Linked DNA regions of Homo sapiens. The protein of the gene in region 2 interacts with the protein of the main gene of each other region in a pairwise test. Each region holds a gene or a part of one and is shown on either strand. Other genes may lie near its edges. The genes, in order: UBE2R2, SDCBP, ANKRD36B, SCML1, PRPF38A, KHDRBS2 and THG1L.

What was found.
Region 1: the proteins of SDCBP (region 2) and UBE2R2 interact in binary tests that used the Homo sapiens proteins (3 or more experiments, as listed by UniProt).
Region 3: the proteins of SDCBP (region 2) and ANKRD36B interact in binary tests that used the Homo sapiens proteins (3 or more experiments, as listed by UniProt).
Region 4: the proteins of SDCBP (region 2) and SCML1 interact in binary tests that used the Homo sapiens proteins (3 or more experiments, as listed by UniProt).
Region 5: the proteins of SDCBP (region 2) and PRPF38A interact in binary tests that used the Homo sapiens proteins (3 or more experiments, as listed by UniProt).
Region 6: the proteins of SDCBP (region 2) and KHDRBS2 interact in binary tests that used the Homo sapiens proteins (3 or more experiments, as listed by UniProt).
Region 7: the proteins of SDCBP (region 2) and THG1L interact in binary tests that used the Homo sapiens proteins (3 or more experiments, as listed by UniProt).

The regions. Positions count from the first base shown.
Region 1 is NC_000009.12:33,900,253-33,904,431, forward strand, and holds part of UBE2R2 (ubiquitin-conjugating enzyme E2 R2), read left to right. Parts: coding exon 1-19; intron 20-4,179. UniProt on the Homo sapiens protein: E2 ubiquitin-conjugating enzyme that accepts ubiquitin from an E1 ubiquitin-activating protein, and catalyzes its covalent attachment to other proteins by an E3 ubiquitin-protein ligase complex.
Region 2 is NC_000008.11:58,559,082-58,563,260, forward strand, and holds part of SDCBP (syntenin-1), read left to right. Parts: intron 1-1,202; exon of another isoform or gene 1,203-2,666; coding exon of another isoform or gene 2,667-2,714; intron 2,715-4,179. UniProt on the Homo sapiens protein: Multifunctional adapter protein involved in diverse array of functions including trafficking of transmembrane proteins, neuro and immunomodulation, exosome biogenesis, and tumorigenesis.
Region 3 is NC_000002.12:97,537,450-97,541,628, forward strand, and holds part of ANKRD36B (ankyrin repeat domain-containing protein 36B), read right to left. Parts: intron 2,781-4,179; coding exon 2,752-2,780; intron 2,658-2,751; coding exon 2,585-2,657; intron 915-2,584; coding exon 886-914; intron 792-885; coding exon 719-791; intron 1-718.
Region 4 is NC_000023.11:17,746,968-17,751,146, reverse strand, and holds part of SCML1 (sex comb on midleg-like protein 1), read right to left. Parts: intron 1,748-4,179; coding exon 1,643-1,747; intron 1,254-1,642; coding exon 854-1,253; intron 1-853. UniProt on the Homo sapiens protein: Putative Polycomb group (PcG) protein. PcG proteins act by forming multiprotein complexes, which are required to maintain the transcriptionally repressive state of homeotic genes throughout development.
Region 5 is NC_000001.11:52,410,844-52,415,022, reverse strand, and holds part of PRPF38A (pre-mRNA-splicing factor 38A), read right to left. Parts: intron 3,909-4,179; coding exon 3,823-3,908; intron 3,582-3,822; exon of another isoform or gene 3,501-3,581; intron 2,510-3,500; coding exon 2,399-2,509; intron 1,145-2,398; coding exon 1,032-1,144; intron 403-1,031; coding exon 376-402; intron 262-375; coding exon 164-261; intron 1-163. UniProt on the Homo sapiens protein: Involved in pre-mRNA splicing as a component of the spliceosome.
Region 6 is NC_000006.12:61,894,553-61,898,731, forward strand, and holds part of KHDRBS2 (KH domain-containing, RNA-binding, signal transduction-associated protein 2), read right to left. Parts: intron 282-4,179; coding exon 83-281; intron 1-82. UniProt on the Homo sapiens protein: RNA-binding protein that plays a role in the regulation of alternative splicing and influences mRNA splice site selection and exon inclusion. Binds both poly(A) and poly(U) homopolymers. Phosphorylation by PTK6 inhibits its RNA-binding ability.
Region 7 is NC_000005.10:157,730,067-157,734,781, reverse strand, and holds the start of THG1L (probable tRNA(His) guanylyltransferase), read right to left. Parts: upstream 3,363-4,715; 5' UTR 3,342-3,362; coding exon 3,151-3,341; intron 2,984-3,150; exon of another isoform or gene 2,773-2,983; intron 2,353-2,772; exon of another isoform or gene 2,172-2,352; coding exon of another isoform or gene 2,167-2,171; intron 1,915-2,166; coding exon 1,738-1,914; intron 207-1,737; coding exon 37-206; intron 1-36. UniProt on the Homo sapiens protein: Adds a GMP to the 5'-end of tRNA(His) after transcription and RNase P cleavage. This step is essential for proper recognition of the tRNA and for the fidelity of protein synthesis.

The DNA.
Region 1 (4,179 bases), on a different chromosome or scaffold from region 2:
ATCCTACTCAGAATGTGAGGTAAGGAGGAATCTGGTTTTGGAGTTATTCTTAATCTCCTTATTGTCTTTGCTCCTAGTAAAATAAAATTATGTATTGTCTTTTAACATGTAAAAAATCATCTTTCTTATATTCAGTTTCTTTGTCTTTAGCTAGAGCTTTAAGAAATATGTATGCGTCATTTTGAAGAGCTGTATTTACTAAACAATAATGTATATGATTCTCATTTCCCTATGTTCACTTAGGAATAGATTTTCAAGCCTGAATCCCTACTCTTAACTTATCCTAGTTCTACTCTGGTTCTTTATTACCACCTAACATTAGTGTCATTCATTGGTTGCAGTTAATAAACAATGTTAATTCATTATAAGTAACTGAAGTCCATACGCTTTCACATTTCCTTTGTTTTTACCTGTCGTTGTTTTGCTCCAAAATATTTCATACATATAAATATATATCTATATATGTACGTGTATACATATATGTATTTAAATTTTTTGTAGAGATGGGGTCTCACTAAGTTGCCCAGCTGGTCTCAAACTCCTGGCCTCAAGCAGTCCTCCCCACTTGGCCTCCCAAAGCGCTGGGATTATAGGCATGAGCCACTGTGCCCTGCTCATCACATTATATTTAATAGTCATGTCTTCATGGGCAACTCCTCTCTCTCTCTGTCTCTGTCTCTCTCTCTCTCTCTGTTTCTGTCTGTGTCTCTGTCTCTTGTCTTTGAGACAGTGTCTTCCCGTCACCCAGACTGGTGTGCAGCGGTGTGATCACAGGTCACTGCAGCCTCGACCTCCTGGGCTCAAGTGAGCCTTTCACCTCAGCCTCCCAAGTAGCTGTGACTATAGGTGTATGCCACCATACCTAGCTATTAAGCAACTCTTGATTATAAATTTTCTTGTTTTTGATGACAATTTTGGGGGGTACTGATCAGGTATTTTGTGCAATGTCCCCCAGTTGAGATTTTTCTTATGTGTTTTCTCATGATTAGTCTAGGGTTATAGGTTTGGGAGAGAAAGACCAGAGAAGTAATGTGCCATTTTCATTATGTCATATCTGAAGTATTTACTATCAGTGTGGCTTATCCCTGTTGATGGGATACCTTTCATCACCTGCCTGAAATAATATTTTTAGCTTTTCTCCACTGTAAAGTTGCTCTTTCCTGAACTTTTCATTCTGTACTCCTTGGAAGGAATATGCATAGCCCACAACTAAGGAGAGGGTGGCTATACCTCCTTGAAGCCAGGGTATCTATATAAATTATTTTGAATTCTTCTGCATGGATTGATCTATTCTTCCCCTTTATTTGTTTATTCAATCATTTGTTAAACATTTTTACTGATACAAAAACTAATAACTTGATTAGAATCTCCAGGTTTATCAAAAGTGAAGAATTGGAAGCTTCCTGACTTGTAATAGAAGCTCTTCAAGATGTGTCAAATGACTGTTGATTATGTTTGTTACTCATTCCTTTGGGTACCTTGTTCCATCCAATTTATTTAGAAAGAGTTGAGAAAATAGATATATTAAAGATTTCAGCATATCTTACCAATATATTTTTTAAGACAAAAAATGTTACTTTCTTTCTAAATTCAAATAAATGTGTTTTTACACCTCACCTTGACAACCATCATCCCTCTGAATGTTTTTTTCTCATATTTCTTTTTTTTTTTTTTTTTTTAAGACAGGATCTTGCTCTGTCGCCCAGGCTGGAATGAAGCGGCGCGGTCACGGCTCAGCACAGCCTCAACCTCCCGGGCTTGAGCAATCCTTCCACTTTAGTCTCTTGGGTAGCTGGGACCACAGGCATGCATCACGGTGTCTGCTCAAGATTTTGTATTTTTTTTGTAGAGAGATGGGGTTTTGCTTTGTTTCCCAGGCCAGTCTCAAACTACTGGGCTCAAGCAATCCACTTGGCCTCCCAGAATGCTCAGATTATAGGTGTGCCCCAAAGCACCTGGACTAATTTTTAAGTTTTTTGTAAAGATGGGGTCTCACCATGTTGCCCAGGCTGGTCTGAAACCCATGGGCTCAAGTGATGCCCCTGCCTCAGCCTCCCAAAGTGTTGGGATTACAGGTGCTCACACTACACCCGCCTTCTGAATCTCTTATCTATACAAGAATAATACCTACCTCAGTAGGTTGTTGATAGAATTTAAGTGAATAATGCATGTAAACCTACTAGAATGGTGGATATTACCTGGCTGGCTTGGGTTGCAGCTATTATTTTCAAGGAATTTTTTGGGTCTAATGTGAAGCAGTCATTTGCTATCTATTAGAAGAGAAACACATTTCTTAGTTCCTCATATTTATTTCATTTTGCTACAGGGAGACATAATTGCTAGATGCCTGTATCGTAACCAGTTCAAGTAGTACATAATTTATCTTGGGTTCTAAATACATGAAAAGAACTAAAATAATTGTTTTGAGCTGTTTTTGAGATATTCTGTAATTGAGAATACGCTTTCTTTTTTTGAGGGGAAAAGTGTCCTACGTAGCAAATTATGTATACATGAATTATCTCGATAGACTCAATTTTAAATTAGTATTAAAAATTCTGAGTTGTAGGCCGGGCGCAGTGGCTCACGCCTGTAATCCCAGCACTTTGGGAGGCCAAGGTGGGCAGATCACCTGAGGTCGGGAGTTCAAGACTAGCCTGACCAACATGAAGAAACCCTGTCTCTACTAAAAATACAAAATTAGCTGGGCATGGTGGCACCTGCCTGTAATCCCAGCTACTCGGGAGGCTGAGGCAGGAGAATTGCTTGAACCTGGGAGGCGGAGGTTGCGGTGAGCCAGGATCGTGCCACTGCACTCCAGCCTGGGCAACAAGAGTGAAACGCTGTCTCAAAAAAAAAAAAAGTCTGAGTTTTATGTATTCTATATTACTCAAGAGTATGTTTGAGGGTGCTACGTCTTCAGAAGTAATTGTAGCACATTATTTTGACATTATAATTAGACAATGTGTATAAAAGTTTTTAAAAAATATTTTGGATGATTTGTTGAAAAAATTGCATCCAAAAAAATCCCCAGTTGTACTTTAATAATGATTCTGGTGCATGGATTTTCAGGACGAGTAATAACCCTAGATTAGAGGAAGTGGTAGCTATAATACTGGTGATTCTTGGTTTTGCTGGTTGAACGTTGAATCAAATGCTTACACCCTCTCCCTATTTGAGAAAATAAGCTTCCCCTTTCCTCAAATACAAAGCCCCAAACAAGATTTTCCTCATTGCATTTTTATGCTGCTTGGCTGGATAATGTATTGCCACCACCCATGGGAATTCAGGCTTTTTATCCTTTACTTCTCTTGCATTTACACGCAAATGATGTCATTTGCCTTATCTCAGCTTAAAGTATTATGAACATTTTTTCTTTTAAAATAGGCCTACTTCTCATGTAATCCAGTCTTTTGGAGGCAGAGGATTCCTTTTATACTTATCTGCCCATCTGAAACTGCCTTTGTTACTTTGGGTACTAGCATCATTTTGTTTCCTCACACTTGAGTCCCCAGGCCACCTGAGCCACAATTTAGGGACATTCCCCATACTCAAATCAAGATTGTTTTCCCTGCTTTTATGCTGCTTTGTTTAGAAGCTTCCCAACTACAACTAGTTATGTGGAGTTACACCTAACATCTTCACACAGCTCTACAAGGTATTTGGGTTGGAAATTGTTTACCTTCTTAGACTTTTTATCACTTAGTTCTATGTAATCATTGGGTAGTCCTTCAACATTTTGATCTTATTGGTGTTTTCGGGGGCTGTGGGATGTTTTGTACACTTTTTGGAACCTCACCTGTCTGGAATACCTGGTGGTGCTCAGAACTCTGAGCGGAAGTCAGGAAAGCACTACCTAATGAGCAGATGTGGAATACTTTCGCTTATCCCTTTTGTTTCTGTGTTCACTTGGTTGTGAGACAAGGGAGGTTTTAAAGTAGTAAACTGTTATATTTTCTAACAGGTCATTTATGGCACTGAAATATTAAGAGGGAAGATACAAGATGTAGTGGAAATGGGCAACTATTTTCCTTCTTGTACCTCTCTGCTGCTAAATTATCTAGGGCCAGCAACTGTCTAAGGGTTCTGGGCTCCATGTCCAGTTTATGGGTGGCTGTAGTAAGACAGCAGTGGAGATGGCATAGGGTTCATCTCATCCTGTTTTGGAGTCTTATCTGCTGC
Region 2 (4,179 bases):
AAAAATTTTGAAAGTCCATTTTTCTTCTAGGCTTGAGTTGCTGGTGTGTGAATTAACTCAAGAGTTGTTCAGACAACTTCAGTTAATATTTATTTGAAGAGAAACTTCTATGGAGAGAAAAGTTAGGAAACCACTTCATTTTTCATGAGAACAGTGGGATTTTGAAGTTAGCCAATGACAGAATCAAAAAAAGAAATCAAAAATAGAAATAATATTAGATGGCCAGGTAACATTCTTTTCAGTGCATTTTGGTTGTTGATATTGCAACTTGCTTTGCATTTTGTATATTATATATCATATGCATTTTGTTTATATTGATAGAATGGCTGAAAGTTTAAATAAGGCAAAAAATTGTGTTTAGGGAAAGGCTGCTAGGAAATTGATCCTTTGAACCCAAAGAAGATAATTCACTTTGTTCTCCTGGATTAATACAATTAAATCATATTTGATAGTGCTCTCTCAAGAATGTGAATTTTTTTTTTTTTCTCACAAACCCAGATTCTGTTTTTCCCTTAAGGACTGTACCAGGCCACTACTATTCACCATTGTACTGGAGATTATAGCCAGAGAAATTAGAAAAGAAACAAAAGATGTGTAATAGCAGCAAGAAGGTGCAATAGAAAGCTCATATGCTTCTTCTCCCCACAGAAATACTGATTCAATAACAATACACACACCAGACCTCTTTGTGAGAAATCCGGAAACTAGTTAAGAGGCTCCTGCATTCTAGGTGAGCAGTAAACCAGCTGCAGTGAAGATGGTAGGAAAATTCATCCTACTTGCTCACCATAGTTCATTCCCCTGGCTCAGCATGGCATGAGCAAGAGGAAACTCCAGGCTCCTGGTTTTTCCCTGGGCGGGGAAAGAGAAGACTGAAACATCTGTGTGACATTCAGATTTTTCAGAGGTCTGCCCAAGGGTCTGGTTTTTATTTTGCTTGAATATAAGTTCTGACAGGAAAGGGCACCAGGTTGCGGGGTCATTGAAAACAAAGTTGACAGTTTAGATTAGCAGGCACTCACCATGGTCCCTCCCCCTCCCTCAGCATGAAACCAGCAGGAGAAAATCCTCAACTCTTGGCTTCTCCTTGGGGAGACAAAAGAGTTGGAATGTGTGTCCAGTGTTTCACCTTTTCAGTGGGCTGAGGGACTGGCTTCTGTCTTGCTTGTCTTGGAAAGCTGACAGGGGCTGGTGTATTCCAGGTGCCCAGGAGCCACTGAGAACAGAAGACTTGTTGCTGCTCTAGAGGACCTATGGTAGGGCAGACAGAGGATGATACAGCTCAGCAGCTTGTCCCTACGTGTGGCATGAAAGGTGTTGGAGAGAGAATAGTGGAGTATGTGTCCAACATTCCAGCACTTCAGAGAGCTACCCCCAAGGGACTGGCTTCTGTTTCACCTGACTTGGAGCACAGGCAGGAGTGGACATACTCTAAAAGCCCACTGATGGGAAAGGGCACCAGGTTGGAGGCCTCTGAAAACAAGAGAGCTGGGTGGCTTGCAGCAGCTCCAGAGAACCTGAAGTACCACAGACAGATAGCACAGGGAGCAAAAGATTATGAGATCCTGAAAAAGGAAACGAACAAGTTCATCTTGAGAATTTATACACACTGGTCGAGAAGAAGCATCCTCAGGAAAGGTTCAAAAGGCATGCAGAATCTCTAGTCAGGCCGATCAGTGAGGATCTTTCTCTGTACAGAGCCAGACCACAAAGACTGGGAGGGGTGATATTTTTTCAAATGCTTGGATCCCAACATGATGTTAAAAGACACACAAAGAAATAGGGAAACATGGCACAATCAAAGAGTCAAAATATCCAGGAACCTACTTTAAGGAAACACAGATATCTTCATTATCTCAGAAGGAATTCAGACTAACCACCATAAACATGTTCAGTGACCCAAGGAAAATGCTGCATGAACAAAATGGTATCAACATAGAGATTGAAAACGTAAAAAGGAACCAAACAAACATTGTAACAGATGCAATATGCTTCTTTGACCAAATTGAAAGATTTACTAGAGGAGTTTAGCAGCAGTGTTTTTCAAGGAGAAGAATTAGTGAACTTGAAGCCAGGTCATTTGAAATTATCCAGTCAGAGAAGCAAAAAGAAAAAAAATAAAAAAAGAATGAAGACAGCCTAGAGTACTAATGGGACAGCATCAATTTTATCAATGTAGATTGTATGGAAGTTCCATATGTTGGAAAGAGAAAGGAGCAAAAAGCTTATTTGAAGAAATACTGGCCAAAACTTCCCAAACTGAAGGAAGGCAGTGGACATCCAGATTCAAGAAGCCAAATGGACTCCAGAGTAGAACAATCCGAAGACATCTACATGGAAACACACTGTAATCAAATTGTCAAAGAATTTTGAAAGCAGCAGGATAAGAACAACTTGTCATATACAAAGGAGATTCTGTGGGACTCTAAGTGGATTTCTTAGCAGAAACCTTGCAGGTCAGAAAGAAGTGGGATGATATAGTCAAACTGCTGGAAGAAAAACTGCCAGCAAAGTACTGTATGTGGCAAAACTTTTCTTTAAAAGTAAAAGAGAAATAAGATTCTCAAAATCTGAGAGAGTTCATCACCACTATATCTGACTTAAACGCCAATGGGAGTCTGTTAAATGGAAACAAAAGTATGTTCAACATGAAAGTATAAAATTAAATGATAAAGCTATGGACAAATAGAGACCTGCATATTATTGTAATGGTGGTGAGTAAATCACTTATTTCTGATATATAAGTCTAAGACAAAAGTTTAAGTGCCTGTAACTATAAAAATATTAATAGATGCACAACATAAAAGATGAAATTTGTAGCATCAGTAATGCAGTATGGGGATGGATGAGAAGAAGCAGTATTGTATGCAGTTGAAATTATCAGCTTAAAATAGGTTTATTAGAAGATGTTTTATGTAAACTCCATGGTAACCACAAAGAAAATACCTATAGAAAATACACACACACAAATAAGGAATCAAAGCATATCTATTAAAAAAAAAAACAGTGAAACAAAAAGCATGATGGCAAGAGAGGAAAGGAAGGACAAAAAAGTTTCAAGATAGAAAATCATTAACAAAATGTCATTGTAAGTCCTTCCCTATCAGTAATAACTTTAAATGTACTAAACTCTCCAATCAAAAGACATAGAGGGGATGAATGGATTAAAAAAATAAAACCAAGAGCCAGCTATACCCAGTTTATAAGAGACTCACTTCAGATTTAAGGATACTTTTTATTTTTTTACAGAAATGGATATACTGATTCTAAAACTGATACTGAATTGATAGGGATTTAGAATAGCCAAAACAATTTCGAAAAAGAACAAAGTGGGAGGATTCACATTAACTGATTTTAAAACTTAATACAAATGTACAGTACTCAAGAATGTGTGGTACTGGTATAAGGATAGACATATAGATCAGTGAAATAGAATTGAGATTGCAGAAATAAGTGCATACAGTTATGATCACTTTTCAATAACGATGCGAAGACAATTCAAAAATGTTATTTTCAAAAAATGGTGCTGAAATAACTGGGTTTCCACATGGATAATAATGAATATGGATCTATACCACACACCGTGTACAAAATTAACATAAAATAGATCAAAGATATAAATGCAGGAATTAAAGACATAACATTTTTTGAAGAAAACATAAGGGTAAGTCTTCATAACCTTGAGTTGGGCAGTAGTTTCTTAGATGTTATATCTAAAGCATAAGCAACCAAGAAGAAATATAGATTCAAATTTGTCAGAATTAAAAACCTCATATTGCAAAATGCACTGTGAGAAAAAATGAAAAGACAATCTACAGAATAAGAAAAGTATTTGTAAATCATATATGATAGTGGTCTATGATATGGTCTGAATGTTTGTGACTGTGTCCCTCCATTCATATGTTGAATCCTGTAATCATCAAGGGGATGGTATTAGAGTTACCATATGACCCAGCAGTTGCATGCTTAGCTATATTCCAAGAGAATTAAAGATGCATTTATTAAAAAAGTATATAAACTTACATATTATTTGCTAACAATGCAAATGCTCATTGGCATTTTTAACAGCATTATTTATAATAGCCAAAAGTGCAAATAACCCAAATGTCATCAGCTGATGACAGCATAAATATAATGTGGTATACATACAATGGAATATTATTCTGCTATGAAAATGAA
Region 3 (4,179 bases), on a different chromosome or scaffold from region 2:
TTGAATAACTAATAAAGAATATATGTCTGATGTCTGATACTAATAAACATGAATAATGAGGCACTGTGATTTATCCCAATTCTAGCACTCCTTCCTGATTACAGTAGTCATTGGAGCAGCCAGAAATCAGATCTTCTGGTATGCAAATATTCTAAATGCATGTGAAGTGAGTTCACTCAGGCTTCCTCAGCAGAAACCCCAAAATTACCTAAATAACTTCTTCCTTCCCCTCTTTCTTGCCTTGCAATCCCTCTCTTGATGAAAATAATTACTACATCAGTGGTCACCTTGCTCCTCATTCTCCAGTGTTTATGGGTTATTATGACAACTTCCTCCCTCTGGTTTAAGCAGTACCATCTGACATCTATAATTTCTATTACTTTTTTCTCTTTCTCCTTCCCCTTTCCATAGAAACATGCTCTGAAATAAGAGCAAAATTATGCTGTCCCCGGATCCTCTTATCTCTTATGTCTTGAACTGTTTTCCAACGGTTCTTCTACACAATTTCAATGTAGGGAAGTCTATAAGCTTGTTACTAAGATCATGGCCAAGGACCAGCAGCATCAACAACACCTGACAACTCAGTAGAAATGCACAATCTCAGGCCTGCTGAATCAGAAAGTGCATTTTCAATGAGCCCCCTGCTGATCTATTCAGGGGTGGGACGTTGTCTTCTATCTTGAGTGCACATGACATTAAATGTATATTGCCAAATTACCTGTTCCAGATTTCCCACCGCCCGTTATTCTTGTGGCAATATTCAAAAGAGAAACTTTCTTTTTAAATATAACCTGAATGGAAAGAGAAACAAAATAGTCAATACATAATATATATTTCATAGGCTATGCAATAAATAATTCAAAATATAAATGAAAGAGTAACTACCTTCTGGGCCGATTGTTTCTGAGGAGACACTGAAAAGTAAAAGAAATATATAATCCATCATATGTAAATATGATAAAGTTATCCACACATTCATGCAGTGTTAGCATCAAGCTGTATCCTCCTGCCTGTACTAGTGTAGGATTTGATGTTTTACAGTTTGTGTCTTTGGGACAGGAACATGAGGAAATATGCTGAAGAAAATAGGAATACACGCTTCCAGAAAATATTCAGTCAGAAATTACAAAGAGGTATTTTGCGTCATGTGTGTATTACTGAAATAAAAAGTGTCAATATCAATGTGGATATGCTGAATGATGAAAAGAAATGTGATCTAAAATCAGAGGAGCAACTCATACACCCAGGAACCAATGTCAAAGAAGGTACTAAATGCTACTGCATGTTTTTCATGCAAGACATCAGAAGGATTTATACCACTGTACTGCAAGTATTCATCATGCTCTTTAACTTGCCTGGTAATTGAGCAGGTACACAATGACAATGACACTTTAATAGAATGTACACTTCACAAGTCCTCAGTGGAAGTGTCGCAGCTTCATCAGCTTGGATATAGGTTGGGATAATCCTGTATACAATATTCTTTATTTCTCAAACCCATGTGGTGTAATAATGTGCCTACATTTGTTGTGTCCTCTAGTTTAGGCTACAGAAAGGTTCTTCATCCACTCATGGCAACAAAGTATAATATATAAACCATATCAAAAAGTATAATAAATGATCAAATGACAAACTTATACAAAATAAAGTTGCTACAAGCATTAGATATGAATAACCTTTTACATTTGGAAATCACTACAATATTCATTGAAAATAACAATTTTAAAAGTCAATTAATGAATTCAAATTAATTTTGTTTCTAAAATAGTCTGGTTTGAAGTATCATGTTACTCTCTAAAGCATTTTCATTAAATTGCTATTTTATCCAAAGTTAGCTAATTGAAAAGCCAATATATGCATATTCATGTTTATTTCATTTGAATAACTAATATCAACAAAACATATATCTCTGACACCCAAGAGTAACAAAGAGGAGCAATGAGTCACTGTGGTTTATCCCAATTCTAGGAGTCCTTCCTGCTTCCACTGGTTCCTAAAGCAGTCAAAATCAAATCTTCTTTTAGGAAAATATTCGAATATGCATCTGAACACAAGTTTCCTCAGAAGAAACAACAAAATTACCTAAATAACTTCTTATTTTCCCTCCTTTCTGCCTGACAATCCCTCTTCCTTGAGGAAAGTAATTGCTACATCAGCGGTCTCGTTAGTTCTCATTCTACAGTGTTTATGGGTTATTGTGATCACTTTTCCATCTGTTTTTAGGAACGCGATGTGATATCTGTAAAATCTATACTTCATCTCTATCTCCTACCACCCTTGGTGAAAACATGCTGTAGAATTAAAGCAAAATTATGCTGTCCCCTGAGCCCCTTATGTCTTGACATGGTCTCCAATGTTTCTTCTTCCCAATTTCAATGTGGGGAAGTCTATAATCTTACTTCGAAGATCACGTCCAAGACCAGCAGCATCAGCGTCACCCGAGAACTTATTACAAATGAAGAATCTCAGGTCTGCAGAATCGGAATGTGCAGCTGCGACGAACCCCCCCGCTGATTTATTTGGGGAAGAGAAGTTCTTTTCTATCTGGACTGAACATGACATTAAATGTGTTTTGTAAAATTACCTGTCCCAGATTTTTCTCCATCCTTTATTTCTCTGGCTATATTCGAAACAGAATCTTTCTCATCACCTGTAGTCTGAATGGAATTTGAAACAAAATAATAAATAAATAAAGTATGTTTCATAGACTATACAATTACTAGTTCACAATATAAATAAGAGTTTAATTACCTTCAAGGCTGGTCGTCTCTGAGAAGACACTGAAAAGCAAAAGGGATACATAATCACCCACATGCACGTATGATAAAGTTATTCATACATTCATGCAGTGTTAGCATCAAGCTGTATCCTTCTGCCTGTACTAGGGTAGGATTTGATGTTTCCTACTTTGTGTCTGGGGATTGGAACATGACAGAAATACACTGAAAAAAAGTAATACAGCCTTCATGAAAAATATACTTACAATTTCAAGCATGGTATGATTTGTCATATGTCTAAAACTAAAATAAAACCGTGTCAATATCAACGTGGATATGCTGAGTGATGAGGACAAATGTGATCTAAAATCAGAGGATCAACTCATACACCTGAGAATCAATGTCAAAGTAGGTGGTACTTGATCCCACAGGTCTTTCATGCAAGAAATCAAAAGGATTTACACCATTATACTACAGACATTCATCATGCTCTTTAACTTGCCCGATAACAGAGAAGGTACACAATTACAATGACACTTCAGTTGAATGTACACTTCACGTCTCTTCAGTAGAAGTGTCCTAAATTGATCACCTTGGATATCTGTTTGCTGAAACTGAGTAGATAATATTTATTATTCCTCAAACCCACGTGGTGTAATAATTTGCCTAAGTTTCTTGTATCCACTCGTTTAGCTTTCCAAAAGTTTCTTCATCCATTCATGGCACCAAAGGATAATATATTAGCCTCAATAAAAATATCATCAATTATCAATTTTGACATACTTCTACAAAGTAAAACTGCTACAAGCGTTAGATATTAATATGTTTTACATTCACAAATCACTCCAATATTCATTGAAAATGACCACTTTAGGAGTTAATTAGAATTCCACATACTTTTTGTTTCTAAAATAGTCTTGTTGGGAGTATCATGCTATTCTCTAAAGAAGTTTCATCCAATAGCTATTTTACCCAAGAGTTAGCTCCTTGAACAACGAAGCCAATGTATTCATATTCAAGTTTATCTCATTTTTATAACTAAAATCAACAAAACATGTATCTCTGATGCCTAATAGTAGCAAAGAAGAGTAATGAGTCAGTGTGCTTTATCCCAATTCTAGCATTGTTTCCTGCTTCCAGTAGTTCTTGGAGAAGCCAAAATTTAGTGTTCTTTTATGCAAATATTCCAAATTTATCTGAAGTGAGTTCACTCAGCTTTCCTCAACAGAAACCCCAAAATTACATAAATAACTTCTTCTTTTCTCTCCTTCCTGCCTCACAATCCCTCTTCCTTGTGGAAAATAATTGCTACTTCAGTGATCTTGTTCGTTCTCATTCTATGCTGTTTTTGAGGTATTAGGATGACGTTTCCCTCTGTTTATAACAATATAATCTGACGCCTATAATATCTATTACTTCATCTCTTTCTCCTTCCCCTCTTGATGGAAACTTGCTGTAGAAT
Region 4 (4,179 bases), on a different chromosome or scaffold from region 2:
GAACTAGGTCAGAAGTAACTAACATTTTATTTAATTCCTCTTTCATGTTTAATTGCATAGTAATAGAGATTTTGGTCAAAGGTTTATATGTTTAAAAAATAACTGAGATATGAGACAGTTTAACTGCTCATACTTCAGAAAGTTTTAGCTATGCTCTACACTAAGTTGTGTTGAAATTTCTTTGTGTACTGACAAGTATCCTTTTACTCACCCACAGTGTTAGACTCCCTAAAATTAGTGTGTGATGACTAAAGTGGGTTTTGTAATTAGTTAGGAAAATTTGTTTCTCCAACCAGGACCATCAACACAATTTGATCTTTTTGTGTGTGTGAATTAGCCAAAAACATACCCTTTCTTCCCTACCATCTGGGCTCTTGCCATATCAGGAGTGTTTTTTATTTATCTAGGGAAAGGGTAAATAAAAATAGAAGATTTGGAAAAGCACAATGGGGCAGAGTTCTAGAAGTGCTACTCACCAGCTCTGTGATCGTGGGGATGGCGTAATAAATGTGCCAAAACCATGGGGTCATTATGAGTATAAGTGGAGAAGAGGCATGTCAGCTGATTGGTGCAGTGCCTTGCACATAATATGCATTGAATAAATGTTAGTCATCATTCTGAATATCACCTAAAACCAGCCCTCAAAATAGGAAACGAACAGCTTCCACTAGTTTGCATCAAGGATGTTGATAAATATAGGTCAAATAGTGCTACTTGTAAATATGGCATTTCAAACTCACCAAACCAGAAGGGAAGCAGAGAGATGATCCAGTATACCTATTCTCCATCAAAGCTGAGTAACTCATCATCTCAGGGGCATGTACCAAATTGGGCTCTCCCTGGGCCAGCATACCTGAAGGTGGTGCTGCAGAAGCATGGTCAGTTGAGTAAGTGTTGTGGATGCTGTCAGCCCGAGGGTTGCCAAGGCAGAGCCCTGAAGAAGAACCATACGTTGCACCATCAGATGCATAATACGGCTGACAATTATGCTCAGAGAAATCTGAGGGATGCACTGGACTCGGAGTGCGGCTGAGGATCGGGTCCTCCTCCAGCTCAGCTCGCTGGTATTCTTCCATGCAAAAGGATGGCCTTGGAAGGTTGCTCGGGGAATTATTCTCACGCCTTGACACTGGTAAAGTGGGGCTGTAACTTTCAGGGTAGGAGAATGTCTCGTAAACCTCATTTTTCTTCATTTTCTGGAGTTTAAGCTTTTTAACAAGCCGGTAAGAATGCTTTTTATATCCATATCGCTTCTGAAATCACACAAACACAGCATAAACCAACAGTGAGTAAAAAAGTAAATAAAATTAGTAGCAAATACATTAATACTTATTTTCCATGCAACATTGCTTTACATTATTAAAAATAAATGGTCCCTTTTGATTATATAATTCTTCAATCCTACATTTTAATTGTATTTTACACATTATAATTACAAACATAAAAATAGGCAGCATCATAAATTATCAAACCTAAACTTCAGCGTTCTCCCAACAGAGTTTAGTCTCCATCTACTGTTACAAGTATAGACATGCCTTGCTAATCTCACACAGATACTGGTACTCTCTCACTTCTAGCTCATTGGCATCTTTACAAACCAGAGGTTTATCACAGTTGTAAAAATGTTTTTTATAACACTTACATGATTTGTCCACAGGGATCTCGCATGGAAACGTTGGATTTTTGAAACCTTTCTACGAATCACATCAATCTTCTTATCCAGGTTTTGCAGAGCATCATATATAACCTATTATAATACAATGTAGTCATATAATTGGTATACAATGTAAAATATAATTTTTTATTTCAAAGAAAAGTAACGTGAAAATACCATTAAGTCAAATGTTAACTGCTAGACACAACAAAAGTTCTCAAGCCATCAGAAATGTCTTGCTCCTATTCAAGGCCTGGCTGTAGGTGACACAGAGCCAACAGGCTGAGCTAGAGTAGTCCCCTCCCCTGCTCTACTCCATGTAGGAATTGAGGAAGCTCTAATGCTGGTGAATGAATGTCCCACAATGCCTCTATGCTAGCACATTGATGATGAAGACACTGCACATCAAGGAAGGTGCTATTTTAGGAAAGAAATCTGCTAAAAGAACAAAGACTCACTTTATGATATACATATGTAACATATATGTTCATATATGTACAAATATGAAGTCTATATTATATACAGACAGTGAGTGTTCCACTCCAGAAAGAACACTGAACCAAATATAACAGATGTGACTTTTGGCTTCAAAGTATTTTTAAATCACGCAGTCAGCAATTAATCTTACAAAACCGTTAAGTACACATCTCTTACGCGCCAATCGAACACATAGGAGACTGATAAAAGTCTGAGAATTCTTCTTGAAATACACAGAGACTTTGGGCAAAGAAAAATACACTTAAGCAAAGGGCCAGAAACATTGCAATCAAGCACATAGGAGGCTGATAAAAATCTGAGAATTCTTCTTGAAATACACAGAAACTTTGGGCAAAGAAAAATACACTTAAACAAAGGGCCAGAAACATTTCCTCATTCATTCATTCATTCATTCATTCACTCATTCAACTAAACCTTTATTGATGGCCTACCACCTGGCAGAACTACTTTGCTAGGTATTGAGAACATGGACCGAAAAAAAAAGCTCCTGGCCGGGTGCGGTGGCTCATGCCTGTAATCCCAGCACTTTGGGAGGCTAAGGCAGGTGAATCGCTTGAGCTCAGGAGTTGGAGACAAGCCTAGGCAACATGGCGAAACCCCCGTCTCTACCAAAAATACACAAAATCAGCCAAGCGTGGTGGTGCATGCCTGTAGTCCATGCTACTAGGAAGGCTGAGGTGGGAGAATCACCTGAGCCTGGGAAGTTGTGGCTGCAGTGAGCCATGACTGAGCCACTGCACTCCAGCCTGTCCTAGAGGAACTACCATCTCAGCTGGGAGAGAGACAAGTAAAAAGAGGATTCCAGCAGACAAAGTGATAAACAGCCTGGAACAGTGGTTTGCAAAGTGTGGTCCACGGACTGGTAGCATCAACATCACCTGTAAGCTCATCAGAAATGCCAAATGCCAGGTTGTACCCCAGACCTATGGAACCTGGAACTCTGAGAGTGGGGGCAGTGGTCTATGTTTTCACAAGCCCCCCAGGTGATTCTGATGGCCCTAGTGAGAACCACAGGGCTGCGGCACTGAGATAAACAGTGCAGGCTCTTGGGGAACATGGTTGGGGTCAAATACTACAGTCCAGCCACTTATTGGCTGTGTGACCCAGGGCAAGTTACTTAACCTCTCTGTGCTTCAGTGTCCTCATGTAGGGAATCAGGATGAAAAGCTCTCTCAGGGTTCTCTCGAGGACGAGAACCTTGCTATAGTATTAGGTTAATACTAACAGTAACAGCACTACACTACACCCGGTCCAACAGTGCTCAGTGGTCTCTTCATGTTACTATTGTTATTACCAGTGGCGTGACACAGGTGGGAACAGGAGGCTAAGCCTGCACAGAAAAGCAGTCCTAACCCAGGCTGCAGTCACGGAGACCTTTTCAGAGGAGGTGAGGTCTGAAGTGAGAATTAAAACATGAGAAGGCCCTCGCCAGGTGAGGATGCATGGAAGGGCTTACAGCATAGAAGGAACAGCAGGTTCATAAATACCCAGAGAGAAAAACAGGAAGCCAGGTGTGGAGACAGCAAGTATGAATGACATTCCAGGAGTGGGGCTGTCACAGGAAGAAGAGAGTGAGGATGACAGGAAAGGAGGGATGGGAAGCAAGAGAAGTGGCTTCTCCAAGATGTGGGAGAACTCGTAGAGGGGAAGGAGGGACAGGGACTGGAGCCAGAGGAGAGAGAGGGGGATGCCCGATGGGGGGCAGCTCTGAGTTCAGGGAGGGGACTAGATGCAGAAAGCAGCAAGGGTGTCAGCCCTGGTCACTAGAATGGCCGGGAAGGGGTCAGAAGAAGGGCAGGGATGAGGGCAGTTGGTTGGCTGTGGGGACAGTTATGAGGACTCGGAGGAGAGGACTGCCCCAGGTGCTCCACTATCTCCACGAGTGAAGAGGCAGGACTAGGGAGCTGAGGTAGGCAGGGGATGGCGAGGTCTTCCTCTGCTTCCAGACTAAGCAGGATGGAGACAGACTCAAGAGGGAACTGGGATGAAAGAACAAGGCAGGCTGGAGTGCCACCTCTGTGATCTAG
Region 5 (4,179 bases), on a different chromosome or scaffold from region 2:
TTATAAGTGACAGTCAAGCTGTGAACCTTAATTTTCAAATTCTATGTCCATTTGCTTTTCTGTTAGGCAGTACAGTCAGGCACTCCTGTACTGCAGGAGGCTAACTACTCCTTTTACATTTCTTTGTTAAGACAACCTGTGGCAAAAGGCCCACAAGCTTTACCTGGGGACTTGGAACGGGATCTGTGCCGCCGATCTCGGGACCTGCTGCGGTGACGTCTTGGACTCTTGCTCCGATGCCTTTCTCGGCGAGGGGAGGGGCTGTAGAAAAGACTGGTCAGACTACCAGATCTGGTTAGCAATATACATATAACACCAATACCACCACCCCCTCCCCAAAGCCCTATCCTTCATCACAAATGACTGAAGGCCTACCTTCTCCTTTTGGGAGATCGACTCCGCCTATAAAGAGGAGAGGAAGAAGAAAGCCTAGGTTGGCGCACTGGATGTGGTAGATTGCAAAAACGGCCCCAATCTTATCCTTCACGCTTCTCTGTATCACCCACCTCTGTATCCATGTCTTTTGTCACGTAACTCTAGCACCCTCCCATTCTAACTTTAGGACTGGTGACATGACTCGCTTTGGCTAATGAGATATTTGCAAATGTGATAAAAGCAGATACTGGAAAAACATTTGCATGACCGGGTTTGTTTGCTCTTGAGTTCTGCCACTACCATGAGAATATGCCCAACTTAGCCTGCTAGAGGATGACACAGAGAAGAGAAATTTCCCCCGTCATCCAAGCTAAGGCAATTCCATACCAGCCAGTAGACAGCCGACAACAGAACAGGTACTTTAAAAACTGCCTATCCAAGCTCTGCTTAAATCATTGACTGCAGACTTGTGAAAGGAACAAATGGTTATTGTTGTCTGCCAATGAGGTTTTATAGGTGGTTGTTTTGCAGCAACAGATAACTAATATATTGGGCAAACATTCTCCATAGACGTGCATTTTTCCTTCTCTAAAATCCAAACTTCTAGGCTACAGTGCTCAAAATCTTCTGGGAAAAGGCCAATGACTAGGCTTTACCTTCTGGGAGACCGGCTCCTACTCCTCCTGTAGCGCAGTGTGGGAGAGCGACGGGGCTTGTCCAAGTCTCGGTAGCTTCTCCGGCGGTGATCAGGTGATGGCACTCTTTCCAACTGGAAACAAGATGATTGGGTCATTGAAAGGCACAGGCTTATAAAGAGCCATCTAGGAACACTAATTATACTTCACGCCCCATCTTGTCCCAAAGTCCATCTCCATGTGACTTTAAAGCACAGTAACCTGACTACAAAGAGGGAAGCACTTACCCTATTAACTAACAAAACTTATTATGAGCTATATAAGACAGCCAAAATGACTCATAGGAGAGGGAACAGAAACAGACCTGTGTGTGTGTATGTGTGTATGTTTAGTTTATCTGCAGCCTGGGCAACATGGTGAAATCCCATCTCTACAAAAAAAATACACAAATTAGCCAGGTATGCTGGCACGTGCCTGTAGTTCCAGCTACTTGGGAGGCTGAGATGGGAAGACTGCTTGAGCCTGGGAGGCCGAGAATGCAGTGAGCCACTGCACCTCAGCCTGGGCAACAGAGCAAGACCCTATCTCAAAAAAAAAAAAAGTTTGCTTCCTGGAACAACTGGGCAGCTTGGTTGTTTTCAACTTTTCAGCACCGTAACTAGTACTGAAAGAACATGACTATGCGGTTGACATTTTCCCCCTCCTAAACAAGGTTTATTCCTTAGGATAGGTGCAATTATGAAAGTGTTCTTTCTTTCCAAGTATTTAATAGCTGCCACCATTTATTAGGCAATTATAATGTGCCAATACTCTGCTAAGGGCTTTAAGTTTATAATCTTATTTAATACTTTTAACAGTCTTGGGGAAAAAAGTATCATTAACCTCACTTTACATAGGAGAAAACTAAATTTAAGTAATTTGCGTAAGATTATACTACTAGTATATGGCAGAGCTGAGGTGCTTTTAATAAGGAAATATTGTTTTTGGCTAGAGTTAGAAAAAAAATTTTTTTTGAGACGGAGTCTCACTTTTGCCCAAGCTGGAGTGCAGTGTTGCGATCTTGGCTCACTGCAACCTCTGCCTCCCGGGTTCAAGCAATTCTGCTGCCTCAGCCTCCTGGGTAGCTAGGATTACAGGCACCCACCACAACGCTGGCTAATTTTTGTATTTTTAGTAGAGACGAGGTTTCACCACCACGTTGGCCAGGCTGGTCTTGAACTCCTGACCGCTGGTCATCCACTCGCCTTGGCCTCCCAAAGTGCTATGATTACAGGCTTGAGCGACCACGCCCGGCCAATAGAGTTAAAAATTAAAGTCTAAAAACAAAAAACCATTCCCATTTTCTATTACTCCCTCCCCTACAACCATAAAAGTCTCAGGTGCCAGACCTTCTCATCCTCCTCTTCTTCCTCTTCACTGGACTCCACATCATCCATGTCCTCTTCCAGAGCACTAACTCGAGGCTCCAGTTGCTCAGCTTCCTCTAATACATAGCGTTTCTACAGAGAAAATGATGAGAGTTAGGGGTTGTTGCCATTTCCCCTATTTCTTGAAACCTCAACACTGGGCTTCAGGGTTCCAAGGAGCAACAGCTGAGGCAATTTCATTTCAAAGACAGTTCAAGATTTTCCTAACAAGTTTAATAGACCTGAAATCTATAAAGTTCTCCTATAAACATAAATACAAACCTGAAGAGAACATCTTCATTTTCTATTGACTCTATTCCCTGTACCTTATACTCTAAAGTCATGGGAATATCAATCAGTATAGGTACAGCCTAGAACCAAAAGTAAGGGCTTCACACACAGAGAAAATCCAAGGGCTAATAAGTTCATGGCTGGTAGTTCCACTAGAAGAGGCCTAGCCCTAGAGTAGTACCAAATCTCCAGTAGACCCAGGATCTCGGGAGCTGTTGATATTCATGCATTTTGAACTGGTTCCATTTTAATCTGGGATATGGCTTAGCAATGTTTATTTGAGTGGCTAAGGATCAGAGAGGCAAAGCTGATTTCAAAAATGCCAAATGGCTAAATGTAGTGGCATGTACCCGTGGTCCCAGCTCCTTGGGAGACTGAGGTAGGAAGATCCCTTGAGCCCAGGAGTTTAAGAACAGCCTGGGCAACACAGCAAGACATTGTCTTGCTATAAGAATTGGGCCCTCAAAGTAGGTTTTCAAATTTATAATCTCATTCTTTCCACTACATGCCCTACAGTGCCAACATGGAACAGGAGAGCTGTATCACACTCATTTCCTGAAAAGATGCCTCATGGATAATCGTTTATCACTAGGAAAGGGAAGCAGGATGGTGAAGGCAAGTTTAAGGAATTAATGGCTCAGTCTCCCACTCCTGGCCCTATTTTTATCTGTTTTATGTCCTGGCTTTTTACATGAAGATTAGTTTAAAAAAAACGTTCATGAAGTTAAAAACTCCCTACCTACTCTAGCTACAATACCCTTGATGTAACATCCTGAATAAATTTCTTTTTTCATGATAGACAGGTAATGTGCTGACTTTGTAACAAGGTTTGAGGGAGGCACAACTCACACATGCACCTGAACTACAAAAGGATGGAGAAAAACAAAGTTTCCTTGTTTTAAACCATTCACTTTTAAAGCCCTACCCTTCAAATATTTTATCTATTTTCCTCTCACTCCCAATCCACTATCTTGGGACTCCCAGACAGGAAGACTATTCATTAAGAGGACCCATAAGATCCACAGGCTTCAGTGTTTAAGCTGTGTGTATGTGTTTGTCTGTCTGCCCGTCTAGGAAGAGAAGGGTGACTCTGGTAACAGACTTTTATTTCTTACCTGTAGTCGGGGCAGAATGATATCACAGACTCTCTCACTGTGCAATAGTTCATCAATAAACTCATCAACATGCATCAATTCAAACTCTGCAAGAAAAAGTCATTAGAGCAAACAACCTGGAAATAAAAGATTTAGATGCCAAAAAGTAAAAGAAGTGTTAAGACTTCATATCAGGACATCTATGTGCTAGGCCTCTTTAGAAGAGATTAAGGGATGAATGAAGATGTCCCAATTAGCAGGAGACAAACACAAAAACAAGCACAAACAGTCCTGAATTATGTAGGGATGATCTTGAAGAGATCATATAACTTAAATATAATTTCTCATCTGAACCTTCAATGTTTCTGAATTTAGAAC
Region 6 (4,179 bases), on a different chromosome or scaffold from region 2:
CGGTATATGAACAGTTTGAGACGTAGCTTGTTAACTAATCAATTTAACTCATCCTTACAACTTATTTCTTAAGAGTACTTACATATTCTTCATAAGCTTCATGGGCTGGAGGAGGAGGTGCCCTGTATCCTGGCACTGTTGGTGCCCCCCGGGCTCGAGGGGTAGGGACACCTCTTGCTACAGGTGGCACTGGAAGCGCTCCACGGGTTACAGTGCTTCCCCGAGGGGTGAGAACACCTCGTCCAGGTGGTGGGGGAGGAGGAATGGCACCCCCACGGCCCCTAAGAGAAACAAGTCATGTATAGATGAGAAACAGGTGATGAGAGAAAAGGGCCTATCACAGAAAAAGTTTTCATCTCACAGCCTCCATACAATGAAATAAATACAAATTTCTCTCTCTCTCTCTGTGTGTGTGTGTGTGTATGCATTTAATAGAAATTATATAAGATATAAAGTGTGTTGATATCTATAGAAGACAATAATTGTAAACACTGACTATGATTAGTTCTTATAAAAACCATGTAAAATACTTTGTTATTGTCTTTTATATAACTAAAAACCCAAAGCCAGAAAAAAAAAAAAAACCCAAACAAAAACCCACTCTGAATATAACCCCATTAAATTCCAAATTCTCGAAGAAGACACAAATCAGAGCATCGTCTGATATATGACTCACTGGACCATCTCTGAAACTGAGCGGTTTCAGATGTCTGCATCTCCTTTATGCTGGGGATTACAGATAGTGATGGACAATGCTGTCATTTACCAAAAAAAAAGGTGGCTGCACTTAAATAAAATGTGGGAATCTAACCATAGTGATATCATTCTGTTTACTATAGCTGCTTAAGTTTGAGATTACTTGAAATCACAACTCTTTGTCACTGATTTATCATCATGCCTGTAACCCCCTGAACTGGTGCAGTCCCTGACAGAATATATTTTCTTAACCATAACTATGGTGTTAGAGGAATACTTTAGTATCTGTAATAAAAATAACAGACTGAATACTCTGTATTGCAGTTCTTGATACAAAATTGACTTGCACTAAAAGTGTAAGATCAAATGGTTGTGGCCAATTTTTATGGCATTTTGAAGCCTTTAGAATGGTTGAGTGTTTGTCTGAAGTCTTTGGGCAAAAGAACAGTTATTTCACTTTTTATTTTGTCTGAAAGGTTGGCCTCTAGATAGCACTGCTTTCAGTGGGAACACTAAAGCTTTGGGGAAAAAAATGATGATCATTGAGATGTCAACAATCACAGTATTTGGCTGTAGGCACATATGGGGACATAGGTTATGCTGTCTGCTATGAATAGCAGTCAGATGGCTCTTTCTTGCTTAAAATAAAAGTGAGCATTTATAAGTGAAGGGTACGAATGCTGGCAAAACCTTTAAAATTTTTAAATAGATTACAGAGCTGATGAATAGAGAAATGATGAGAGAATTTATTGTGAGTCTAATGTATAAAGAATACTCTCCTAGATTGGGAGAAGGTGAAACACAAAGACCCAGAGGCCCAGTGCTGGCTGCAAGTACAACATGGCTAAGAATACAGTATTCTGTATTACCATGATAATACATAAAGGGATGTAAAAACCAATTTTGCCTTCACTGCTCCTCCAAGCACATTTCTGTTTCCTCATAAGCAAGATGAGCATATGTCCAGGTTTTATAACTGTTGTCCTAGCTTCCTGTTCAGTTTAGCATTTTAACACTCTCAAAAATATCCATGTGTGGGCAATAAATTATATGGTCACCCTACTCTATTCACGAGCCTTCGCTATACCCTTGAATAGTCATGGGTAAGTATTATAACTACCTAGGCTTAAGATAGATATTTTTTTTTCTAATGAGTAAAATGCAGATTTCTAAATTTATAGTACTTCCTTCTGCTCTAATATTATATGATGCTCATATCAAATCTAATTTTCCATTTTCTTCCTTCATCAACTGACTACCAGACACAGCCCTAGCAAACCTGCCTCCTGAACCTGACTCATTACCTCTTATCCACTATGTTCTTTCCCTGGAATATTAACCTCATTGTTCTCTCCTCCAATTTAATTCAAATCACTTTTTTTAGGATACTGCCCCTGGCTAAAACCACACCACAGTATCCTGTCGTTTATTTGTCTGACTTGCTGAAAGAATATTTTCTGTTTAATTCTTTACTTCCTCTACATTCCTGAACTGAATGTTATCAGTCTAGTTCTTGCTTTCACCCCTCTGTTGAAAATGCTCTTGGCTGAGATCACCAGTAGCCTACTGATTTCCAAATCCACTAGATTTCTTTACAGTCTCCATGCCACAGCACCTTTCTACTATTTTTAAGATTGTGGACTATTATCTGGAAAATGTTTCTTTGGACTTTTATGACTCTGCTTTTCTCTACTTTTCCTCATTCCTCCTTATTCGTTATCCTCCTTCACTGGCTTGTATTCCTGGACCCACTTTGGAATCTGGATGTCCCCAGTTTCTATCCTCGATCTCATGGTTGCACCCTGCAATCCCTACCTCTGATGATGGCTATAATCTGTTTTCTTCCTAACATAATGCCATATCTTGGCTTGTGTTCCTTATATCAGAAGTTTCTTAACTTGCCTGCATGTTAAAGTTACTTGAGGATCTTTTGAAAATTCCAAATTCCAGGCCATACCCTAGGCCAATTAAACCACAATCTCTGGAGACAGGGAGCTCCCAGTGATTCCAAAATACAGGCCAATTTGGGAACCACTGCCTTAAATGAATACTCCAATTTAAGCATCTTGACAAGCTTGTCATGTGGGCAGTTCTAAGTTTTTTAAAAATACATTGAGATATTAAGGCATGGAGAGAACAAGTCACCTGCCCAAGGTCACACCAGCAATCCACAGAGCTCAGATTATTTACAAGAATAATTATATTCTTCATTTAATTTGATCCTTCACCTACTCTTAGTTAATGATATCATCAATTTCTCACCAGGCTAGACACCAAAAATTTATCTTTCTCTTGGGGAACTCTTCTTCTCCAACGTTTAATTGGCATTAATTCATATAAATGTTAATCTCTAATCTGGCCCTATCCCTGTCTATTCCAAATGCTGCTCATTTTTATCTGCCTTGGATGATGGAATTGTTTTCTCATTGGCTCCCCTGCCATAAGACGGTTTCTCTGTCTCTGTCTCTCTCTCTCTCTCTCTCTCTCAATCACTGTAACTCTTCTGCATCAACCACAGTGATAATTGAGTAGTCTTTCGCATAAACAAATATGACTACTCTCCTCTTTAACAAACTCTATTAGTTCTATGTATTCGTTCTCAACGTGGTAAACAAAAGCCTTCAAAATTTACCCCGATGTTTCGTTTTTCAGTGACTGCACTCACTGCAACATATAGTGGTGATGTGTGTTAGAGATGTCATATATTTTCATTCATCAATTATGCAAAATAAATTATTATTACAATATATAGATGTAATGCTTTGTTCTCTGGTATACATTATTATTGGAAAATTAGAGTTATCATAGATAGGATTATTGAAATGTAAATTGTTTTAATTAAATACACTTTCAACAAATTATAGAGCTTAAAATATTCTAGACATCATCTTTTTGAATATAAGTGTAATTAAATAACTTCATAAAGTAATAATTTCATAACAATTCAAATTAGGAATTGTTAACTCATGTTATGCAAAGTTCTCTTATTAATAAGATTTTCTATTTTGTAAAGCTATTTTCTTTTTTTTTGTGGGCATTTGGTATGACCAATCTTTAATTTTCAAGCAATAACAAATATATAGTATCGAGCACTTACTAAATATCCGATACAGTTGTAAATGTCTTTACATGTAATACATTTAATGTTTTATTGTAAGTCTCTAAGTGATTATTGTATTAATTAAATTGTAACATATAATTACATAACATATCCAAGGTCAACATTTTAACTTATTGTTTATCTCATTCATTATGAGATACACAATTATTTTATCTTAACACTATGAGAGAAAACACTGAGTTAAATTATGACTATGCCATGTATGTCAAGAAGACAATCACTTTGAGATGTCAAAATGTGAAAAACATGAATCCTTAAATTGATGAAATATAATAACATCTAGTAAGTGGGAGAACTAGGATTTAGAACCCAGGCATTCTCTTTCTAGAGCTTTTCTGCTTATTCATTCTACTATACTTTCA
Region 7 (4,715 bases), on a different chromosome or scaffold from region 2:
TGGTTTAACTACATGTGTTTATTTGGTGCCACTCACAATCTGCTTGTCGCCAGCTGAGGTAGTCCTTTAAAGTCTGGTTGCTGGGATACACCACGACTCTTCCGTCAAAGCCTGGGGGATACAGAAGGGGCTGGTCCTCAAAGTAATCCCGCCAATAAAACACATAGCTGGAGGCAAACTGGGAGGCCACGTGAGTCATGAACTTACTTGAAAATGTAACGCACATTGGGTGGAGTAAGAAAAAGAAAAATACACGGAATTAGTTCAACACCATGATAAGACCTGTGGGTACCACAGAGAGTACACAAACTGCCCAGAAAGCCAGGAGATAAAATGCATTTGGCTAAGAAACACTATTTTAATACCTTGGTTCTGTATTTTTTTTTCTTTTTTTAGGACAGAGTCTTGCTCTGTTGCCTGGGCTGGAGTGCAATGGCACCATCTTGGCTCACTGCAACTTCTGCCTCCTGGGTTCAAGTGATTCTCCTGCCTCAGACTCCCGAGTAGCTGGGATTACAGGTGCAGGCCACTACGCCCAGCTAATTTTTGTATTTTCAGTAGAGATGGGGTTTCACCATGTTGGCCAGGCTAGTCTCAAACTTCTGACCTCAAGTCATCTGCCTGCCTCAGCCTCCCAAAGTGCTGGGATTACAGGCGTGAGTCATCACACCTGGCCAGTTATGTATTTTAAATGCAGCCTGCCTCTCCTTCCAGTTCTATTAAGTAACCTACTGATACTAAACCTTTCCCTACAGGATGTGATACGAATTTATGATTCAAGGGGTATTTTTAAATTTTATTTTATTTTTTAAAAGATGGAATCTCTCTGTCCCTCAGGCTGGGGTGGATTGGCACAATCATAGCTCACTGCTGCCTCAAATTCCTTGGCTCAATGGATCCTCCTGCCTCAACCTCCTTAGTAGCTGTGACTATAGGCACATGCCACTGAGCCCGGCTAATTTTTAAATTTTTTGTAGAGATGAGGTCTCACCATCTTGCCCAGGCTGGTCTCAAACCTCTGGGCTCAAGTAATCCTCTCCCTTACCCTCTCAAAGTGTTGGGATTACAGGCGTGAGCCACCACGCCTGATCTGTTTGTGTTTACAGTCATGAAAGGAGAGAAACCATTGTTGTAAAAAAAATGCCAATTCAGGCTGGGCGTGGTGGCTCATGTCTGTAATCCTAGCACTTCGAGAGGCCAAGACAGGAGAACTGCTTGAGGCCAGGAGTTTGAGACCAGCCTGGGCAACACAGAGAGACCCCACCTCTATTAAAAAAAGAAAGAAAGAAAAAACCAATTCATTATATGATTTGTTTCCCATACAGCGTTTCAAAATACTGCCAAATCAAATATCAGATTTGTGTATTTTATAATGAGATCTGTCTTGAGGAACAGTGTAATGCAATGCACGTAGAGACTATCACTGGCTAAAGCCAACCTATGAATTGTTAATATTACATTCTTATAGTCTCTGTTTCTAATCTTAATGTTCAATGCCAGGTCAGTCTAGAAACCAATCTTATGGGGCATGTGGGGAAAGAATCAGATAAAAGAGGCACACAGAATGCTCGGCTATCAGATGGAAGTACAACAATCTAAACAGGAAATATACATGTACTCTGCAGTTACAAATACTGCAGACATCATCTGTAGCCTGTAAGTCTGCGATTAAGATAAACAGAAAACCAGATGCTGGGAGGAAATATTCTGAAGAAAGGAGTTAGGTCATGGAATTACCTGGCTCTTCTTTTAAACCAATTGGTTTTCCGCTTGAACACAAAGCTGTACTCATCACTCTGTCCATACGCGATCACAATATCCTCTAGTTCTTCCATCACAGTCTGCGCACATTTGGTCATCAGCTGGAGAGCACGGCTGTCATTGGGTTTTGCAAAGTTGTGCTTCTCAGCAAACCTTCACAGGGGAAAAAGGGAAGAAAGCATGGATGGAAGCCTGTCATTAACAACACGCTCTGTTGCTAGATAACAGAGGCTGTTTGGAGGAAGATAATGTAATAGCACTGTGAACTCAAATGCTCAACTAGCCACAACCTGATCCATTTTCTTAAGAACTTAGTTTTTTTCCTGCCCTGAAATTGAGAAAGCCAGACAGAAATGCTAAGCCTCAACTCTCCTTTCTGTGAAATGGGAATAAAAGAATATTTACCTCATTGGGTTGTCCTGAAGATTAGGGAGAAGATAAAAGTAATCATACCTAGCTCCTAGTAAGTGCTCAATAAATGTTAGTTATAATAATCATTAACAATGCAGCCCTCTTCAAAGATTAAATTCCCATCTTTCTGTTATATTTCTTTCTCCCCCTCCCTCTTTTTCTGAGACAGGGTCTTGCTCTGTCACCCAAGCTGGAGTGCAGTGTCCAATCACCGCTCACTGCAGCCTTGACCTCCCAGGCTCAAGCGATCCTTCCACCTCAGCCTTCCCAGTAGCTGGAACTACATGTGTGCACCACTGCGCCGGGCAAATTAAATTTTTTCTTTTTCTTTCTTTCTCTCTTCCTTCTTTCTCTCTCTCTCTCTCTTTTTTTTTTTTTTTTTTTTTTTTTTTTTGTAGTGGCGGAGTTTCACAAACAACAACCACAGAAAAAACAAAACAAAAACAAAAACTTGGTCTCCAACTCCTGGCCTTAAGTGATCCTCCTGCCTCCCGCGCCCAGCCTTCTCTTTTTTTCTGACTCTCTGTTGAATCTAGTCCATGTGGCCTGTTACTGATAATGAAGCACAGACGTTAAGTATTGCCCACAAGCAAGGCTTACACAGACTTCTGAACAGTCAGCATTCAAAGATATCTAACAGAATAGCTAGGCAATTGGCTTAAGAGCTTAAATATTGTGCATGAGAGTGACTTTTAACAACAGGTCCTTGCTAACAAGTCTCTGTTCACTTAACACGGGCACTCCAAGCCAGATCCTCATCACGGGAGCACATCGCCCATTCAATTACGCTAACAGCCAGCGTTCAGGCACTGTCCTAGCCAACACGCAGGGCGGGGCAATGCTCCATGCTGCGCACTCATTGGCTACCGCGTTACCCTGGTAACCGTGACTGGAGCGGGCGGGAGGACTTGCAAGGGAAGAAGCTGGATTCCCCGGAAGCGCTGGCGCATCGCGACGCCCCGAGTCGAGCTCGCTCACCGATGGAAATTCCGGCCGTCCAGCCGCACTACCACCCAGCAGTGTGCCAGGCAGGTGTCGTCAGCCTCGAAGTCCCTCACGTACTCGAACTTGCTTTTTGCCATGGTCGCCCCCAATCTCAGGTACCGTCTCAGAGTGATGGAAATGGTGGCCAAGGAATCGTGAACCTTAACTTTACAGGCGCCCCACATTCTACACGCGGAAAGGAAAGGGCCAGATAGCCCCGCCCCGGAAGTGTTCTCTTCGCGGCTACTCTAGCCGTAGGGCAGTCATAGTCTCTCTCGCCTCTCCCTGTAGTTCTTAACCTCCCAGGCAAAGAGGATGGAGGTTTAGGTTCCTCCGTTAGCACCTTCCACGCTTGCTTCTTCCTCCTCCCGTCCTGCGGCAAATCAGTCTCACGAGGTTTTTAAAAATTATTTTTTATCTGCTGGTCTTGACTTACTGGCAAAAGCAATCAGTGTCCCCGTTAGTGCCCAGATCAAAATCATACCCCAACCTAAAAAAAAAAAAAAAAAAAAAAATTCTTTTTCTGGTGTTTGAAGGTGTAGCTGTGATGTTTCCCCTTTTCTTAGTGGCATTTATTAACTTGTAGAAAATCTGGAATACACCAAAACTATAGTTAAGAAAATTAACACTTTGTTTCTCCGTCTTTCCCATCAAAGCATTGTGGATGGTTCCTTTCAGTCTTTTTTCTTTTTGTGTATGTAGGTTTACACAGGGAATGCACAAGATTGGAATTATTCGCCTATACAATGTTTATATATTTTTCCACTCAGCTTGAGCATTTGCCAGTATCATCAATTATTCCAAAGTGTGATTTTTAAAAGAAAAATGGACTCAATATTCCAACATATGGGTATACTAAATTGATTTATTCAACTTTTTCACCATTAAATAATCACAGAACCAGTGTTTGATATCTTGTTGCTGGTGGATAATAGTAAAAATAAAATCCTAATATTTGTGTCATACTTTGTGATTTACAAAGCTCTTTCAAATTCATTACCTACTTACTTACTTTTTTTTTTTTTCCATCCTCAAGAAAGATATTCAGGCCAGGCACGGTGGCTGACGCCTGTAATCCCAGCACTTTGGGAGGCAGAGGCAGGAGGATTGCTTGAGTTCAGGAGATTCATACCAGCCTTGGCAACGTAGCAAGACCCCTGTTCCTACAAAAAAGAAAAAAAATTATCCAGGCTTAGTAGCCCATGCCCGTAGTCCTAGCTATGGGAGGATGAGGTGGGAAGATACTTGAGGCCAGGAGTTCGAGACTGCAGTGACCCATCATTAGCCACTGCACTCCAGCCTTGGTGACAGAGCAAGAATCTGTCTCTAAAGAAAAAGAAAAATATTCAAACAATATAAATCCTTTTATATGTAGCAAAAAGTCTCTCACTGACTCCTAACAACATACTTTAGGCAGTTACTGTTACCAGTTTTTTGTGTATCCATACAGGGATCTATATCAGTATGTGTGTATATCCTCATAATAGTACCACAAATGGTAGTCATCACTCCTTTGATGCTCAGAGTAACATCAGAGGGATGCAAAAGAGGAACTGGGA